Linked DNA regions of Homo sapiens: regions 2 and 3 are each linked to region 1. Evidence: fine-mapped expression QTL. A gene starts in region 1. Each other region holds a variant in brackets. All regions are shown on one strand. Distances are from middle to middle. Region 1 holds the start of GOSR2 (golgi SNAP receptor complex member 2). Region 2 overlaps WNT9B (Wnt family member 9B). Region 3 has its middle 24 kb from the start of MIR5089.

What was found. PIP is the estimated chance that this variant, and not a neighbour inherited with it, causes the effect.
Region 2: its variant is the best candidate, but not a certain one, in a credible set for the expression of GOSR2 in whole blood (TOPMed, PIP 0.79).
Region 3: its variant is the best candidate, but not a certain one, in a credible set for the expression of GOSR2 in T cells (TOPMed, PIP 0.60).

The regions. Positions count from the first base shown.
Region 1 is chr17:46,919,844-46,926,009 of GRCh38, reverse strand. GOSR2 (golgi SNAP receptor complex member 2) reads right to left here and starts at 2,850. Exons shown (of 6, transcript NM_004287.5): 1 at 2,789-2,850. The coding sequence starts at 2,817. It overlaps GOSR2-DT (GOSR2 divergent transcript), which reads left to right and starts at 3,139. Exons shown (of 3, transcript NR_186460.1): 1 at 3,139-3,199. It also overlaps a transcript of LRRC37A2 not described here and the pseudogene RNU6ATAC3P. RefSeq lists an enhancer at 2,150-2,874.
Region 2 is chr17:46,874,041-46,879,040 of GRCh38, reverse strand. WNT9B (Wnt family member 9B) reads right to left here. Exons shown (of 4, transcript NM_003396.3): 3 at 3,675-3,940; 4 at 1-2,796. The coding sequence ends at 2,323. It also overlaps a transcript of LRRC37A2 not described here. Among named protein-coding and RNA genes, the nearest start is that of WNT9B, 25 kb to the right of the region's middle. RefSeq lists enhancers at 213-712, 2,022-2,622. The variant C/G (reference allele first, on the strand shown) is at 2,551.
Region 3 is chr17:46,946,429-46,952,594 of GRCh38, reverse strand. It overlaps a transcript of LRRC37A2 not described here and a transcript of GOSR2 not described here. Among named protein-coding and RNA genes, the nearest start is that of MIR5089, 24 kb to the left of the region's middle. The variant C/T (reference allele first, on the strand shown) is at 3,595.

The DNA.
Region 1 (6,166 bases):
GGAGACTGATCTTGGACTACATAGGGGACAAATGTGGTCACCTTTACAACCATTGGGATCTCAAAAATAGAAGCCTGGCTATTAGCTCCTCTATAAAGTTCATCTAAATTAAACATTTAAGTGTAAAATGTTTATTGTTTTCATTCATTCATTATTTTCATTCATTCATTGTTCAGGTAGGTTCAGGAGTTTTCAAGTAACTTTAATATGTCAATCTAATTCCAATGTACTCAATGTATTCAGTGACACGGCAAGAGATAATCACAAACTGGGTTCAAAGTTCCAGTAAAATTAATAAGTTCAGCTACTGTTGTGTCAACTCAGCTACAATCACTAATTTCTGCAGTTGCGAAAGTTCATTGCTGGTGCTCACTGGACTCCACGTGTTTCTTGTGAAAGTCATTCAGTCATCAGTTCTGTTATCATGGAACTGAAAGGAGCCTTACAGTTTAACCAGCCCAAATTATAATATCATTCTACAGATGAGGAAAAATAAAGTAAGGAGGTCTAGAACCAGAACTCCCACTCCTGGTTCAGCACTGGAGAGGAAAGATAGACAAGATACTGCAGCATAAAAGAAGGTAAACTCCTCGAGGGCAGGGCTGTGCTGCCAGCACTGAGAATGGTGCACAGCACATAGTAGGTGCTCAATAAATATTCAATGAATTAATGAGTGTCGGGGTAGCAGAGGGCCTAATAGTTGTGGGGCAAAGCTGGCCCACTGCTTGTTTTGATAAATAAAATTGTACTGGAACACAGGTACATCAATTAGTTTACATATTGTCTATGGCTGTTTTCCCAATATAACAGCAGAGTAGTAACTACAGAGACCGTATAGCCCACAGAGCCTAAAATATTTACTATCTGGCCCTTAATAGAAAAAACTGGCAAGCTGCTAGAGTCCAAGGGTGCATTGTTGGAGGCCTACAGAGCATCTACACTCCACACACCTTGTTTGGGGTACCATTTAGAATTCCTCTTCTGAGCCATGCAGTTTTCTCTGTGATTAGCTGCACTGAAAACAGGTAGTCTAAGACTCTCTAAATAAAGTTATTCTTGAATATAAAATGGGTCATGGCCTTCTTGGCAACATCCTTTAACTAAATTAACTAGATAAGACCATACATAACAGATTAACTTCAAGGCACTACTATGCCCATTGTGCCCTGCTATTGTGAAAGATAGGCCCTTTCTTAGTAACATGAACATAATTTCGTTTCATTCTTTCTCTAAATTACTCACAGACTAGTTTTAAGTCCCTTCCTATAACGTTTATGTGAGAATAGGGCTCCCCAGTGTAAAAGAAAATTCTGTCATTACAAAGTAGGTTCTGTATTTTCGCCTGTCCAAATGAAACACCTCATCGCCAAAATAAAAGAAACCCATAAACTTAGAAAATGAAAGAGAAAGAGGATCATCACCCTCTTATTCCTCATGCTTCAGGGCATTTCATTTCCAGGCCTTGGGAGTGTGATTTTAAGTGTTTTAATCAACAAAACTACAGCATAAGTTTGAAAGTTCTCAATAGGATAGGTATATACCTCAAAAAATTGAGAAGAGAAACTAAAACAGATACTTCTACACCAGAGTTCATAGCAGTATTATTCTCAACAGCCCAATGGTGGAAACAACTCAAGTGTCCATCAACAGATGAATGGATAACAAAATGTGGTAGACACATAAAACGGAATATTATTCCGTCATAAAACAGAATGAAATTCTGGTAACAGGCTACAATATAGATGAACCCTGAAAACATTAAGTGAAATAAGCCAGATACAAAAGGACAAATTCTGTATGACTCCACTTATATTAAGTATCTAGAATAGGTAAACTCATAGAGAGAAGTAAAACAGAGGTTACTAGGTGTTCTGGAAGGAAGAAATGAAGTGCTACTGATTAACAGGCACACTGGGATGATGAAAAAGTTCTGGAAATGGATCGTAGTGATGTAAGTTGTGAATGTACTCAATGTCACTGAATTGTACACTTAAAAATTGTTAAAACAGTAAATCTTATGTTGTGTATATTTTACAATAAAAAATAAAAATCATAAAATTCCGTCCCTCCAAAACAGGGTAAAAATCATAATTCTGCCCCCCGCCCCCAAAAATAGGGTAAGTATGGCCCCATTAATACTCAACTACGTATCTCAGCAATTCCGAAAGTGCAGGACGATGCGAATAAAGGACACTACCAAGGAATTTAAGTTATGAGAAACTAAATTACAATTTGATTTTCTTAGCGATAACCTGTAACCAGATACGATTAACAAGTAATAATAGTGAATGCTACGTGGACAGCAATTTCTTTGTACCATAAAAATGTGGTCTTTAGTATAAATCGAATAAGAATACAAATACTTTCCCGTACGTGCCCTGACTCTCCAATTAAACAGTACACTCCTACGGCCAGGGGCCGTGTCTCCTACTCCGTGTCTCCTCTCGAGGTCTACCAACCAGGAGCACCGAGTTGACAAGTGCTGGACAAAGTTTTATAACCTGCAGGTGCCAGTTTCCCGTCACCCAGTCTACCCAGCAGGTAGTCACGAACTTGCAGACCCCAGGAGTCATCTGCCCCACGTCTCCAGGCCCCAGCCTGAACCCACTGTCTGTGGCTGACCTGGGAGTCCCGCCAAGGATTAAGCACTTCGGAGGCATCCCCAGCAGTGCCCTGGCGGAAAAACTCGGCCTCTACCCTGGCTGACGTCCGAGGCCTCAGCCCCAGAAGCCAGGCTCACCTGGCCTCGCCTCGTCTAGCCCCTGCCCGCTCCCCGACCGGCCCTCACTTGTGCGTTTGCTGGAACAGGGGATCCATGTCGCCGGCCCCGCAGGCCACGGCTCCGGCTCTGGCTTCCTCGGAACACGTCCTCACAGCCCCCCTTCCGGTTTCCGGCTTCCGGTCGCAGGACCCTCCCTCCCCTGCCGGCCAGGGCTGCCCGCACGCGCGCCTTACTAGCAGTGGTTGCGAGATCGGAGAAGGGGAAGGAGAAATGAGGCCGGCGACGGAAGGATAAGTGTAGTCACAGGCTCGGCTTCACGTGAAGGGCAAGGCGGTGTACATGTTCGCTGAAGGCTAGCCTCAGGATTCAGTCAGGCGTTAGGAAGGACAATCGCGGGATACTAACGAGAGGTCCTCAGAGCAAAGTTGAAGGCGAGCCGCTATCATCTGCTGTTCTCTGCCGCAGAGAGGACTGGAGGTTCTTGCTTGGCTTCACTTTAAACCATTTAATCGGGGGTCTGGAGATTTCGCTCTTCACTGTTTTTCCTGGCGCAAGCTTTTCCTGTTTCGCATTTGTCTACTCACTCTCCCGCCTATCTACCCCCCATTCCTATTTATCCATCCAGTAAACCTACATTGAATGAGTGGTTATTATGTGTCATGTGTAAAGTAGGGAAAACCGGGTTCCTCCTGCCCTCAAAGAGGTTCTGGTCTGGGAAAGGAAATAAGATATGTATACTCTCAAAAGACAAAATTACAAGAAATGTAGTTATAGATTTTTTTTCTTTATTTTATTATTTTTTATTATTATACTTTAAGTTCTAGGGTACATGTGCACAACGTGCAGGGTTGTTACATATGTATACATGTGCCATGTTGGTGTGCTGCACCCATTAACTCGTCATTTACATTAGGTATATCTCCTAATGCTATCCCTTCCCCCTCTCCCCACCCCACAACAGGCCCCGAAGTGTGATGTCCCCCTTCCTGTGTCCAAGTGTTCTCATCGTTCAGTTCCCACCTATGAGTGAGAACATGTAATGTTTGTTTTTTTGTCCTTGCGATAGTTTGCTGAGAATGTTGGTTTCCAGCTTCATCCGTGTCCCTACAAAGGACATGAACTCATCATTTTTTATGGCTGCATAGTATTCCATGGTGTATATATGCCACATTTTCTTAATCCAGTCTGTCATTGTTGGACATTTGGGTTGGTTCCAGGTCTTTGCTATTGTGAATAGTGCTGCAATAAACATACATGTAAATGTGTCTTTATAGCAGCATGATTTATAATCCTTTGGGTATATACCCAGTAATGGGATGGCTGGGTCAAATGGTATTTCTAGTTCTAGATCCCTGAGAAATCTCCACACTGTCTTCCACAATGGTTGAACCAGTTAACAGTCCCACCAACAGTGTAAAAGTGTTCTTATTTCTCCACATCCTCTCCAGCAGCTGTTGTTTCCTGACTTTTTAATGGTCGCCATTCTAACTGGTGTGAGATGGTATCTCATTGTGGTTTTGATTTGCATTTCTCTGATGGCCAGTGATGATGAGCATTTTTTCATGTGTCTGTTGGCTGCATAAATGTCTTCTTTTGAGAAGTGTCTGTTCATATCCTTCGCCCACTTGTTGATGGGGTTGTTTGTTTTTTTCTTGTAAATTTGTTTGAGTTCATTGTAGATTCTGGATATTAGCTCTTTGTCAGATGAGTAGATTGCAAAAATTTTCTCCCATTCTGTAGGTTGCCTGTTCACTCTGATGGTAGTTTCTTTTGCTGTGCAGAAGCTCTTTAGTTTAATTAGATCCCATTTGTCAATTTTGGCTTTCGTTGTCATTGCTTTTGGTGTTTTAGACATGAAGTCCTTGCCCATGCCTATGTCCTGAATGGTATTGCCTAGGTTTTCTTCTAGGGTTTTTATGGTTTTAGGTCTAACATGTAAGTCTTTAATCCATCTTGAATTGATTTTTGTATAAGGTGTAAGGAAGGGATCCAGTTTCAGCTTTCTACATATGGCTAGCTAGTTTTCCCAGCACCATTTCAAAAACGATGGTTAGATCCCACGAAGTAGGTGGTAATGCCTTAACCGTATGCGTGTTGTCAGGCCCAAGGGCCTCTTCCATCCTTGTCAAAGGGAGTGCTAACCTTCTCTCCTTTAATACAACACAGTTACAGATCTTAACTGGCTATTTGCGATTCTAGCACCAGGCAACACCTTATTCTATAAAATAGAATGAGTATTCTGATGAGCTGAGCAGAGGAGATTATCTTTATAGACAGAAAAGGGCTGAAAAAAAAAAGCAGAAACAAAGAACAAGTTTCAAAGTTATTTTACTTGTATTGGTTAAGGCAGAAGGGACTTCCTTTATCATGGGGATATGGCTATTTTCCCTCTCTTCTGATTTCTCCTAAGGTCAGATGAGCAGCTTAATTTTGGCTTTGTGGCTTGGAACTTTAGCATGAGTGACTCTATTTTGGTTTGGCCTGTTGCGCCTAGTGCAGGAGCTCAGTCCAAACCAATGGCTTTCTATGAATTTTATTTATCAAGACAAACATTCTAGAAGGTAGAAAATCCAAAGAGATTGAGCTGAGCTGGGGGTCGTCTCTAGGAGGAGATTTAGGAGAGACTTAATGAAGGGGTGGCATTTGAGCTGGGACTGGGTTTGGACACTTCTCTGTCTCCACATAGGCTATCCCGTTTCCATCCTCCAAGCTTATCTACTATTCCTCCCAAGGCAGGAGACATTCTTTTCTTGGACAAGTTGATACTTCTCTTTTCCTGGATCCTGGATCCCACCCAGTTTTGTGTCCCAAGAGACTGTCCACCCATGTACATTCTTTTCCTAAAATTATTTTTTTCACTTTTTCTATAATTGAGCATCTACAATGTACCATGCACAGATACTGGAGATAGGAACACAAGCAAGACACAGCCCTAAAACCTCCCATATCTCTCATGGTCTGTTGGGAGAACTAATCATACCCTCAAGCTACATTATTAAGTAGAATACATGCTACAATTGATACAAAGTACCATTTCCGTGGGAAGGGCAAGAACGGTTCATGGACAAAATAGCATATGAATAAGACCTTCAAGAATCAATAGAATTTTAACAGTGTCTTGTATATACTAACCACTCTGAAAATGTTTATTGTGTCTGCCTGGTAGAGATGAAGAGGAGGGCATTTGAGGCTGAGGGAATAGCTTGAGCAAAGGCAAACAGAAGGAAAGAACATGAATCTCCTCTGGCTGGATTCAGGGTGTTTGGGGCAATAATAGTAGTCGAAGAAAGGTTAGAACGAGATCATAGGAATTTTTTTTTCTTTCTTTCTTTCTTTTTTTTGAGATGGAGTCTCGCTCTGTTGCTCAGGCTGGAATGCAATGGTGCAATCTTGGTTCACTGCAACCTCCGCCTCCTGGGTTCAAGCAATTCTCCTGCCTCAGCC
Region 2 (5,000 bases), 46 kb after region 1:
ATGAGGGGTCAGTGGTCACTCTAGTCCCCAGGGGCCCCAAGAGGGCCGAGGTGGGTCTTCAGGGGTAACTGGAAAAGAAAGGGATGAGAGCAAGGAAGAAGAGAGGGAGAGAGACAGACAGAGAAGACCCCACAAGCCAAGGAGCCCTCAGAACCTGCACTGTGCCATTGACTTGGGGTGTCCATGTTAGCAGCCAGCCACTGCCTAGATGCCTTAGAGCCTGCCCTTTGCCCTCCCACGACCCTGGCACTGCCAGCCATGAAGTCAGAATGCAGGTGGCATGTTGGTGGATCAGGGTGCTCTGGCCTCCACGTTGCTCCCAGGCCCCCTGCTCTGCCAGTGAGGTCCCTGCTGCCTTACGCCCAGCACTGAGCCTGGGTGGAGGCAGAGTTGGGGTCTCGGAGGAGCAAGATGGATTGGGAAGGCAGAGAAAATCTCCATGCTGTGGGGAAGTGGAAGAAAGGAGAAAACCAGCCCTCTCCCCATTTTTCTCCTGCTGCCAAGGTGTGGGCCAGGTGCTTGGGTCAGCAATGTCATTTTAACGAGAGGGGCTCAGGTCAGTTTGGCTTCTCAGCCGGGCCTCTGCAGTCAAAAATCCTTCCAGCATCCAGCAGACTGCCCTGATCCACTGGAGACTGGGCAGCTCCTCCTCGCCCTTGGAGGTCTCAGGGAGTTGGCCAGGGCACAGTCAGCGGGCCTTTGTCCTGGAGCTGGCACAGGCGAGGTTTCTGAGCATTCAGCTGATTCTGAAATTTCCTGTGTTGGTGAAGGGTCAGCAACTCTAGGTTTAGGGAGAAAGGAAGCTGACAGATGGGCGTGGCAGGGCCAGCAAAGTGGCCAAGGGCTTCCCGAAAGAAGTCACTTCCTCCTGGGTGGCATCGGGCCCCACTCTGGGGAAGTACAATGCCTCCAGCAAGGGGACCCCTGCAAGGTCTTCATCCTGAACAAGAGAGGCATGTGCAACAGGAACCCCCAGCCTGGTCCAGGGGCTGTGCATCCATGTGTGCCTGTGTGGAGGTACCAGTCTCTCCTCCTTTCACAGAGGGCCTTGGCAGGTGCTGCTGAAAATGTCCACAGGATCTGAGGAAATTATCAAAGTCACGTCTCCTCCTCAAGTAAGAGCCAAAGTGAGGGCCAAGTGAGAGGCCATTAGGAACTGAAGGAGGCTACCCAGGAGCCAGGCTTAGCAAGGACTCAAGCACCTATAACCCCAGCCAGGGCAAAAGCCTTAACTAGATGAGCAGCCACAAGAATAGAAATGTAACTTCAAGTCATAGCTCGTGAGCCAGCTGTTCTTCAGTATTGTGAACTCAGCTGGTATGGGGGTGTCACAGACCAGGCAGGCCCCAGCCACAGGAAGTCACCAAAGCTCACTCAAGAGCCAGCTGAGAAACTGAGCTCGCCACGTCACTGCCAGGCACCAGGAAGCTGTTGCCCTCCTCCTCTGCGCTGGGAGTGAAGATTCCTTTGGCCAGCAGGGAACACAGGGAGGGGCCGTTGTCTCCCTGTTCAACCTCAGGTGCACTGAGTCCCGCCTTGGTGGCTAGTTCTCCCACCTGTCTTACCTGCACTGGTGGTAGTTTTGAGCACGGCTGGGTGAGTGTGCATAACCCAGCTCTCGAGACAAGAATGAGGCCTCAGCGGAGGCATATTTGAAAAGCCAAATCAAGGACACAGGGCTCCAGGGCACAGATCTCACTCGGGTCCACTCAAGCACAGAAAGCTCTCCTTTCTCTGAACGGATGGCTTCTACCACCTGTGCTTTCTCCCCATCTCTGGCACAGCAAAACCAGGGGAGTGGTGGAGGTGTGTGACACCTGGAGCCCACTGCACCTGAGCAGGGCCACAGGACCCGATTGACCCATCTCAGCCAGGCTCCCGCCTTCACTTCCAGCTGGCACTGCCTGCCTTGGCATTCCTAGCCCAGCAGTTCACCTCCCAAGAACATGCTGGCTCCAAGCCATTCATCCCAGGAAGCAAGATGGAATAGCCCCTCTCTCCCGTCCAAAATTTCAGTCCTGCTGTGCTCTTGGTCTCCCTTATTTCCCTCCATGTCTTTCTCACTCTGCCCTCCTCTCCAAGTCCTCAACAAGGTTGGGGATGCTTGGGTTAAGGGAGGAGGCTTTGCTTCTCTTTGTTGAGTATCGAGGGAGGCAAAAGGCTGGCCAAGGAATGGTGGTGAGTGGCACACTCGTGTGCATTGGCACACATGCCGGTTTATGCATGCATGTGATGACAGTCTGCCCAGAGGGCCGGCTGGGCAGCTTGAAGGGTGCCACAGGAGGTCCTGGCAGTGCCAGACTGGCTTGCTGGGCAGTAGGCCTAGTGCTTGCAGGTGTACACAAGCTCCTCCTGCACACATTGCTGGCACTCCACGTAGCAGCACCACTGCACCTGGCAGTGGCAGGAGAAGGCCACCAGGCGGCTCTGGGTGTCATAGCCCCGCCCGCAGCACAGGCTGCTGCAGCTGGCCTCCCGGGAGCACACCCTACCTGCTGTGCCAGGTGAGTACTTGCTGGGCCGGCAGAAGCTGGGTGAGTCCTCCATGTA[C/G]ACCAGGTCCCCAGACCTTGGGGCCAGGCCTTTGGTGAGGCTGCCCTGCCTGGCAGGGGCCCACAGCTCTAGGCGGCCCAAGGCCTCATTGGTGGCACTGGACACCTTGACAGCCGAGTCATAGCGCAGTTTCAGCACCTGGCCCGTCTCACGGAACGGGGAGAGCTGCTTCCAGCAGGTGCGCACGGCACAGGAGCCTGATACGCCATGGCACTTACACGTGGTCCTGAGGCCACTCTTCACAGCCTGTGGGGGAGGCAGAACAGAGGCGTGGTCAGAGGCCTGGGCCCAGCAGCCAGAGCCTGCCCCCAGAGCACCAACCCCAGCAGGGCAGAGGCAGGAGAATGGGAAAGAGACCCAGGGTCTCAGCCCCAGCTCCTCCCCTTGGCCTGGAGTTCTTGTGGAATAGACAACTTACGCGACTGAACACAGCAGTCCCAGTTCACACCAACTGAGTGACTGAACACAGCAGCCCCGGTTCACACCAACTCAGTGACTGAACACAGCAGCCCCGGTTCACACCAACTCAATGATTGAACACAGCAGCCCCGGTTCACAACTCAGTGATGACAACTCAGAACTTAATCTCATAAACAGCTAGAGCACTGGTGTCTCCCAGCCTCCTCCCCTCAATAGACCAAGATACTTTTCACCCTCCAGACCTCCCACTACTGTGTAACCTCAGCCCCTTCCCTTCTCTGGGCCACTTCCATCTTCCCACCCATAAAATGGAGAAGTGGGCAGTTGCTCTAGATGGAGGTTTTCAAACAATGTTGGGCTTCCAGGACCTCCAGGAAGGCCTGGTCCTTGGAATGGAGACCCCTCTCCAAACATGTCCCTGCTTCACCAGACCTAGTCCTAAGCCTGGCTCCCACTGGTGACCACTGCTTCCACCAATGACACTCATGACCCTTCCATGCTTCCGCTGTGTTCCTGGCACCCAGTCACAGCCCAGAGTAGATGCCAAGGGAATGCTGGTTGAAGACGTGAAGTTCATCCTGCCTTTATGAAGTTCACGGCTCTTCATGTATTTTGGGGAGTGGGGTGCTGGCCTCCTTCAAGCCATGCTCCCCAGCTGTGTACCCTGGTGGGAAGGCACTGCGGGCAGCCAGGGACATGCTCACCTTGATGCCCACGTGGGTATTGTGGGCGTCTGCCCGTGCCCGCAGGTCCTTGTTTCCTCTCTTGGACCCCAGGAAGTTGCTCAGAAACTTGGTGCTGTACTTGAGGTTGTCACCGCACACGCCCCACTGCCAGGCCTGCCGGCTCTCCAGCCCCGGAGAGTCATCACAGGTGCAGCGCTCCATGCGCCCAGCGCTGCAGGCCCGGGCCAGGGTGTGGGTGAGGGCGGCAGAGGACACCGCGTACAGGAAAGCTGTCTCTTTGAAGCCTGGATCGGGCACCCAGGGGCATAGGGAGGGAGGAAAGGGGGAAGAGAGGAAAGGAGGAAGCTTAGAGGTTGCCTGCCGCCCTCTGAGGGCCAGAGGCGGTGGTGGCAGCGCTGTGATGGGCAGGACAAGAGAATGTGGCTTGAGGACACAGCTCCGGGTGGGTCTCCCTGTCAACTGCCCCTTAAATTCTGACTGCAAGTTGCCATTTAAATGGAACTTCCAGGCTGGGCACAGTGGCTCGTGCCCCTAATCCCAGCACTTTAGGAGGCCAAGGCGGGCGGATCATTTGAGGTCAGGAGTTCAAGACCAGTCTGGCCAATATGGTGAAACCCCGTCTCTACTAAAAATACAAAAATTAGCCGGGCATGGTGGTACATGCCAATATTCCCAGCTACTCAGGAGGCTGAGGCAGGAGAATCACTTGAACCCGGAAGGTGGAGGTTGCAGTGAGCTGAGATTGCGCCATTGCACTCCAGCCTGGGTGACAGAGGGAGACCTTGTCTCAAAAAAATTTTTTTAATTTATAAATAAATAAATAAATGGAATTTACAAATTCACTATGGAGTATGTTCCCAGATTCCCAGAGGGCAGCAGGCCAGGGGCTACGGCCTTCACCTCTCAGAGAAGAACACTGAGATGCAAAGAGAAGCTACTCAGACACCTGGCGTAGGCACAGTTGGGGCTAAACCTGCCATTTTGACTCCAGGTCGGTGTATGACCATTTGGATGGGCCCATTTCTGAGGCCCCTGAGATAAGCCCCATGGGCTTCCTATGACACATGATGGTTCTCAAATGTCATTCTCTGCTACCCACTGTGGAATAGACCCAATGATACAGTGACCTTGAGTCTCCTGGCTGACTTGCCTCAGACTGACCATCCCACCCACTCCAGAACCACCGACACTCCTCTCTGCTGGGTGTGGCCCAAACCTGGCCTCCCACCAGCTCACTACTTCCTGCCTGCCCTCCAGTGCATCTGGGTGCTGGTGATGTCCCGAGAGAGACACAGAGAGAGGCCATTAGCTTGGCTGCAGACCGTGGAGAGCAGCTGGCCTAGG
Region 3 (6,166 bases), 27 kb before region 1:
CATGTTCCTTTTGAAACCCTTTCCCAGAAGTCTCTCCCAGCAACTTCTGCCCATATCTTATTGACCAGAATTGGGTGACCTGACCCCTACCTGCAAGAAAGTCTAGAGGCACAAATATCTTCAACTGGACTTCTTGCTAGATCAACAAAAGTGGCGTGTAGCTAGTGAGAATAGGGGAGGAATGGATGTTGGTCAGGAAACCAGCAGTGTCTATGGGAATTCCAGGGAAGATTCTGATCGGCCCACCGCGCAGTCATGTGGTCACCCCAAACCGACTGCTTTGGGCTGCTGACCCAGTCCTGCATGGACCAGGCCTGCTTCAGGCGCTGACCCTGCTGGAGGAGGCAGCCCTCGCTGAGTCCCGTGGCACAGGTTTTCCACAGGAAGGAGAGACAATGGCACCAGCAGAAGGGGATAAGGATTTGTAGTCCAAAGACGAGATGCTGGGTAGATAAATGACATCCACCCACTATAAGAATTTTCTGGAATAGAAAGAAAATGCACCAAAAAAATAGCTTCACAAAAAATAACAACCCAGCTTCAGGAATCTCCCCCTCTCCCTGATGCAATATATACGAAGTTATATTGCAGGAACCAAATATAGCCACTCTGAGAGGATGCAGAGAAAAACGGTTTAGAAAGGAAGACTTCCTGGTGGGGGTGAACATGGAGCTGGGCTGTGAGGGAGGTGATGTCTGGGGGGGAGAAGCAGCGAGGCAAACACCCCGAGGGAAAAGCCAGATTTTCTTGCAAGGCTGAAAGGCGGGCAGAGTGGGGGAAGAGAGGGCCCTGTGTGTTCTCCCACCCTGGGCCATTTTTCCTCTCTGAGTGTACCTGGGCCCCAGAAAATTAGAGGTTTCCTTTTCCTCTTGTGTCACTATCTGACTTTGGGGCAACCCTGTCAGCATTACCCTGGCCTGGGAGGTTGTGCAGAGGGGAACGGGGAAGCTCTCCAATGCTAAGTTCCGGAAGAATGGAGTAGGGTGGCCTCAACATGGGGGCAAAAGAAAGTCCCTGGGAACAAGTTCCTAATCCAATTAGCAGGTGATTATATGGTCGTTTTCAAGGGCTACGCCAGTTAAAAGGCACCTCCCAGGAGGCTCTCTCTGGCAGCTTGACAAGTCACTGCTAAACCTGTGATCTGGAGACGTGGGCTGGCGCGGCAGCTGGGCGAGGAGCCCAGGCTCAGAAAGCTGGGGTGGGAATCTTTAAGGATGAAATTGATGGGTAAGGAGCTTGCTGTTGTCATGGAAATGGGCTCTGGGTGGATGAGCTCTGGTCCAATGGGTAACCTGTGGGGAGAGTGCCACCCCTACCAGACTTCACTGTGGGCGGCCAGCGGGCACCTCTGGAACCCGCCGTTCCAGCCAAGCCTGTGGGCTGCGTCCACCTCTGTCTGCCTCCTCCTAGGGACAGCGTGGTCTGGCAGTGCGTGTGCCAGTTTCTGTCAATAACTGAGGGGTGTGGAGAGATGATGCCCTCAAGCTGGAGAAGCCTTTGGCGTGGCTCCTGCCACCCTGACTTAGCTGTGCCTGGCATGAACATGGTACAGTGACAGGCCATGGGCGTGTAGTTGGGGCGAGGGCCACAGGCTAGTTTAGGACAGCGTGGCATGGTGAGACTGTCCCTGGGCAGCAGCACTGGATTGGGAGTCGGTGACTTCCCCCTCTGACTCCAGATCTCTCATCACCGACTGGGTCACCCTTGGCAAGTCATTCTCCCCCAGAAAGTCTGGCTTGGTGGTCCCCAAGACCACTTCTGGCCCCGCTTTTCCTCTGTTCTGGGATTTGGAACTGGACAGTTTTGATCTCATCAGCCCCATGTCTCAGCCCACTGAACTACCCCACCACAGAAGAGTGCCCCCACACAGACCAGTCCCTGCCCTCTCAAGCCACTGAGCAGGGCCCCGGGCAGGCAGGATGGTGGGGCAGCCCCATCCTGTCAGCCCTTGCTGCTCGGGGTCATCTCCCCCGCTAAGTTCACATGGTGGAAATTCCTGAAGCTCATGGCTGCCCCTGAATGCTCTTGGAGATGGGCCTAATAAGCTGCCTGGTCCAATTACCCTTCCATTTCCAATAGGTGCTATTTTAATTGGGCCTTTCCCTGGGACAAGTGTGAAGGAAAAAGCAATTTGTAGTATGGGCTTTTGGCTCTGGCACTGATCATACACTTAGCAACTTCATCTTCTCCCCCTCCATCTCCTTCTTTTCCCTCCCCTTCTCTCCATCCTCACCCTCCTGGCCCTTTCACTTGCCTCTGCCACCTCCTCAGCCAGCCGCCTCCTCCTCACCTACAAGAGGCAGAGAGTCCACACTCTCTGGGGACCAGTATGGAGGGAAGAAGACCCAAGAATCCAGCTGGGGGTGAGGGATAGGAACGAGAAGTGACTCAGGGGCTGCTCTCAGCCCCCGTGAACTCTTGCAGAGACATTGAAAAATACTGGAAAGGCAACAACTGAGAAAGAGAATCTCAAGTTCCTATGATATGAAAGTGGGTTCTCCCTGTCTTTATCCCATGCTCCCTCCAGGAGGCCCCACGGCCTCTCTTTGGGATTTGGTTTCCTCTTCAACACACACTGCTCACTCCAATTTCAATCAATATTTATGAAGTGCCTACTGTGTGCAGAGGACCAGGGACTGGAGGAGGGCAGGGACTAATGAGTCTGCTCTTAGGCACCCCGCGTCTGGCCTCAACTTACCTCTGCAGCCTTTCTTCCCTCCTCCACACTGAACCTGAAGCCTGAGCTCCAGCCACAGAATCCTCCTGCCCTTCCCAGAGCACACCCCTTTGCTAGATGACTCCCTCTGCTGAGACCGTCCGCCCAGGCTCCACCTGCTCCAGTCTGACTCATCTGAGATTCAGCTCAAAAGCCTCCTCCAGGGTTCCAGGGTAAGTAGATACTACTTCTGCCATGGCCCTAAGCACCTTGTACCTGTGTGACGGTTTGTGCACTTTATTGCTGCATGCTCATGTATGTCTTCCCAGCTAGACGTGAGCATCATTCAAGGGGAGTGTGGCAGATTGTACTCTCCAAAGATGGCCACCCACCGTGTCAATTCCATCCCACCTGCTCTTCTTAGAATGTGACCCACATTCTTCCCACTGAGAGGCAGCTGGGGGCTTGTGACCATATGGCTTGTGATCACCACGGCCAAAGGAGTATGGCAGAACAGAGGCCCTATGACTTCCGAGGCTTGGTCATAGAAAGTACACAGATCCCACCTGCTCTCTCCCTTGGGATACTCACTCTTGGAACTCAGTCATCATGCCCTGAGGAAGCCCTGGTCCCATGGAGAAGCCGTGTGCAGGTGTTCCAGAGGATAGCCCCAGTCCAGGGCTCAGCGACATTGTGTGCCCAGCGACACTGTGTGCCAGCCACATCAGTGAACCTTCAGATGATTCTCCTCCCAGCCTTCAAATCTTCCATCTGAGGCCCCAGACATCGCTGAGCAGAGACAGCTATCCCAGCCACGCCTGGTCCCCAGTTCTTATGCTCAGAGGCTGTGAGGTGTAGCAACTGAGAGCTATTGCCGTCAGCCCCTATGTTTTGTGGTGATTTGTTACACAGCAGTGGATCACAATGCAGGTGGGTCA[C/T]GTCTGTTCTCCAAGGCCCAGTCCCGTGACTGGCACCTGGTGGGTGCTCAGTTCGTAGCTATCGAAAGAATGGATGAATGAACTTTAGCAGGCAACAATTCCAGACTGATCTGTCAATCATCATCCTCATCTTTCCTACATCTTCCCACCATGGTTCCACGCCTCTCAGGGAACCCAGGCAGTCCCAAGCCCAGCCTTGATGATGTCACCGAGCCCTAAATCAACCAGCTCTGCAGGCTGCCCCACATCCACAGTTCTTACTACTTAAGCTCCTTAGATCAGTATCTAACCCCAGCAGTAAGATCCTGGGATTTCTGGCCCTTGCAGCCCTGCGCATACTCACTGATCCACATGCTTGATTGGCTTTGTCTTCACCACAGTTCTGTGAAGTAGGCCATTATTAGCATTCCCATTTCCCCTACGAGGACACTGAGGCTGGGAGAGAAAGAGGGAGTGAGCAAGTCCTAATAGGTAATGAACTGGAGATTTGAATTCAGGTCTTCTGATGAAGAACACAGGAATACATGTGCAATATCGTATCTTGTAACAAATAAAGTCTGACTGGCAAATACTTGCAGTCCTTTCTTTGGGGATATCAGATCCTTGACTCACAATCACACCAGCTGAATGAAGGGATCAGACCTGGGTCCTATGCAATGCTAGTGAACAACCACAACAAAACCTCAGTTACCATCTTTCTATGTCCTGGGCTGTGCAGTAGGCACTTTACAGGCATGGCAGTATGCACTGGCCACAGCTGCCCTGTGAGATGGGCATTATTCATCTCCAAAAGGTGACAGAACAGAGGCGTGGAGAGGTGAGGTGGCTTGCTCAAGGTTCCACAGCTAAAGGGCAGAGCTGATCTTCACACTCCACCTGCTTGACTCCAATCACTAAAGGTCTTCTGTCTCCTGACAAAAATCACTTCTAGGCTGGGCGCGGTGGCTCACGTCTGTAATCCCAGCACTTTGGGAAGGCCAAGGCAGGTGGATCACCTGAGGTCAGGAGATCGAGACCAGCCTGGCCAACATGGTGAAACTCTGTCTCTAGTAAAAACACGAAAAATTAGCCAGGCGTGGTGGCACATGCCTGTAATCCCAGCTACTCAGGAGGCTGAGGCAGGAGAGTCGCTTGAACCCGGGAGGCGGAGGTTACGGTGAGCCGAGATTGTGCCATTGCACTCCAGCCTGGGCAACAAGAGTGAAACTCCATCTCAAAAAGAAAAAAAAACTATTTCTAGTGACGGACAAGCTCTCAAATACAGGCACTTTTGCTACCACTTGAGGTAGTTATTATTATTCTCACTATACAGACAGGACGCTGAGGTTTGGGTGATTAGCCCAAGGTCAGGCTGCTAATAAACAGCAAAGTCAGGATTCTAAGCCATGTCTGCCATCCCCATCTCAAACATCATCCCACCACCCCCATCACATTACACTGCACCTAAAAAGATCATGTCCAGGTCTTCCTAGGACAGTGGGGCTTGTCCACACCCACACCAGCCTGACAGCTTCTCCAGCTCTCATCAGTATCTCAGCAGCATGAACGTAAGTTGTAGGGAGCTCTGAAGGTGTGTGGCAGTGACAGCCTCTGCCCTGCCTCCGCCTGGTTGGTGGTTTCACCAGATCTGGGGCAGGGTGGGGAGGGAGCAGGGGTAGTTCAGGTTGCCAGGTGCTCCTGGGAGAGAGACTAACAACCCACAGCCCACCACGACCTCTCTCTTGCACACATACACCAAAGAGGAGGCTGCCCTGCTTCCTGAGCAGTAACTCCTGGGGCCACAGAATCTAGGACATGCACAGGGTCCTTCCCCAGCCCTCCTGGTTTCAGAGACAGCTGAGGGTTCCTGCATCCACATTCATGTCAGGGTCCCCTGGCCTTCCTCCACACCCACCTCCAGCTTCACCCTAATACGTCCCTACTCTTTCCACAATCCACTCCAAACCCAGCCTGCTGAGAACCAAGCTCACATGGCTCCCCTGTGAATCTGGCCCCCGTCCCACCTTCCCCAGGGGCAGCAGTCAGTTGCAGCCTCCTCTCACTGCTGGGTGGGCTCTCCACCCTCTGATATCTACCCCACTTGCTTGGCACTTGACTGCTGCCCCGCGACATCTCATAATTTTTGTTTTTTTAAAATTGAAACAGAGTCTCATTTCGTCACCCAGGCTAGAGTGCAGTGGCACAATGTCGGCTCACTGCAACCTCTGCCTCCTGGGTTCAAACAATTCTCATGTCTCAGCCTCCCAAGTAGCTGGGACTACAGGCGCACACCAACTTGCCTGGCTAGTTTTTGTATATTTAGTAGAGACGGGGTTTCACCATGTTGGCCAGGCTGGTCTCGAACTCCTGGCCTCAGATAATCCACCTGCTTTGGCCTCCCAAAGTGCTGGGATTAAAGGTGGGAGCCACCATGCCTGGCCTCTCATAATTATTAATTACTTTTCTGTTTAAGGGCTGCAATACTGAGCTTGAGCTATTTCTTTTTTTTTTTTCCACAAAGGGAATATCCCAGGCCACCTACTTTTTTTTTTTTTTTTTTGAGACGGAGTTTTGCTCTTCTTGCCTAGGCTGG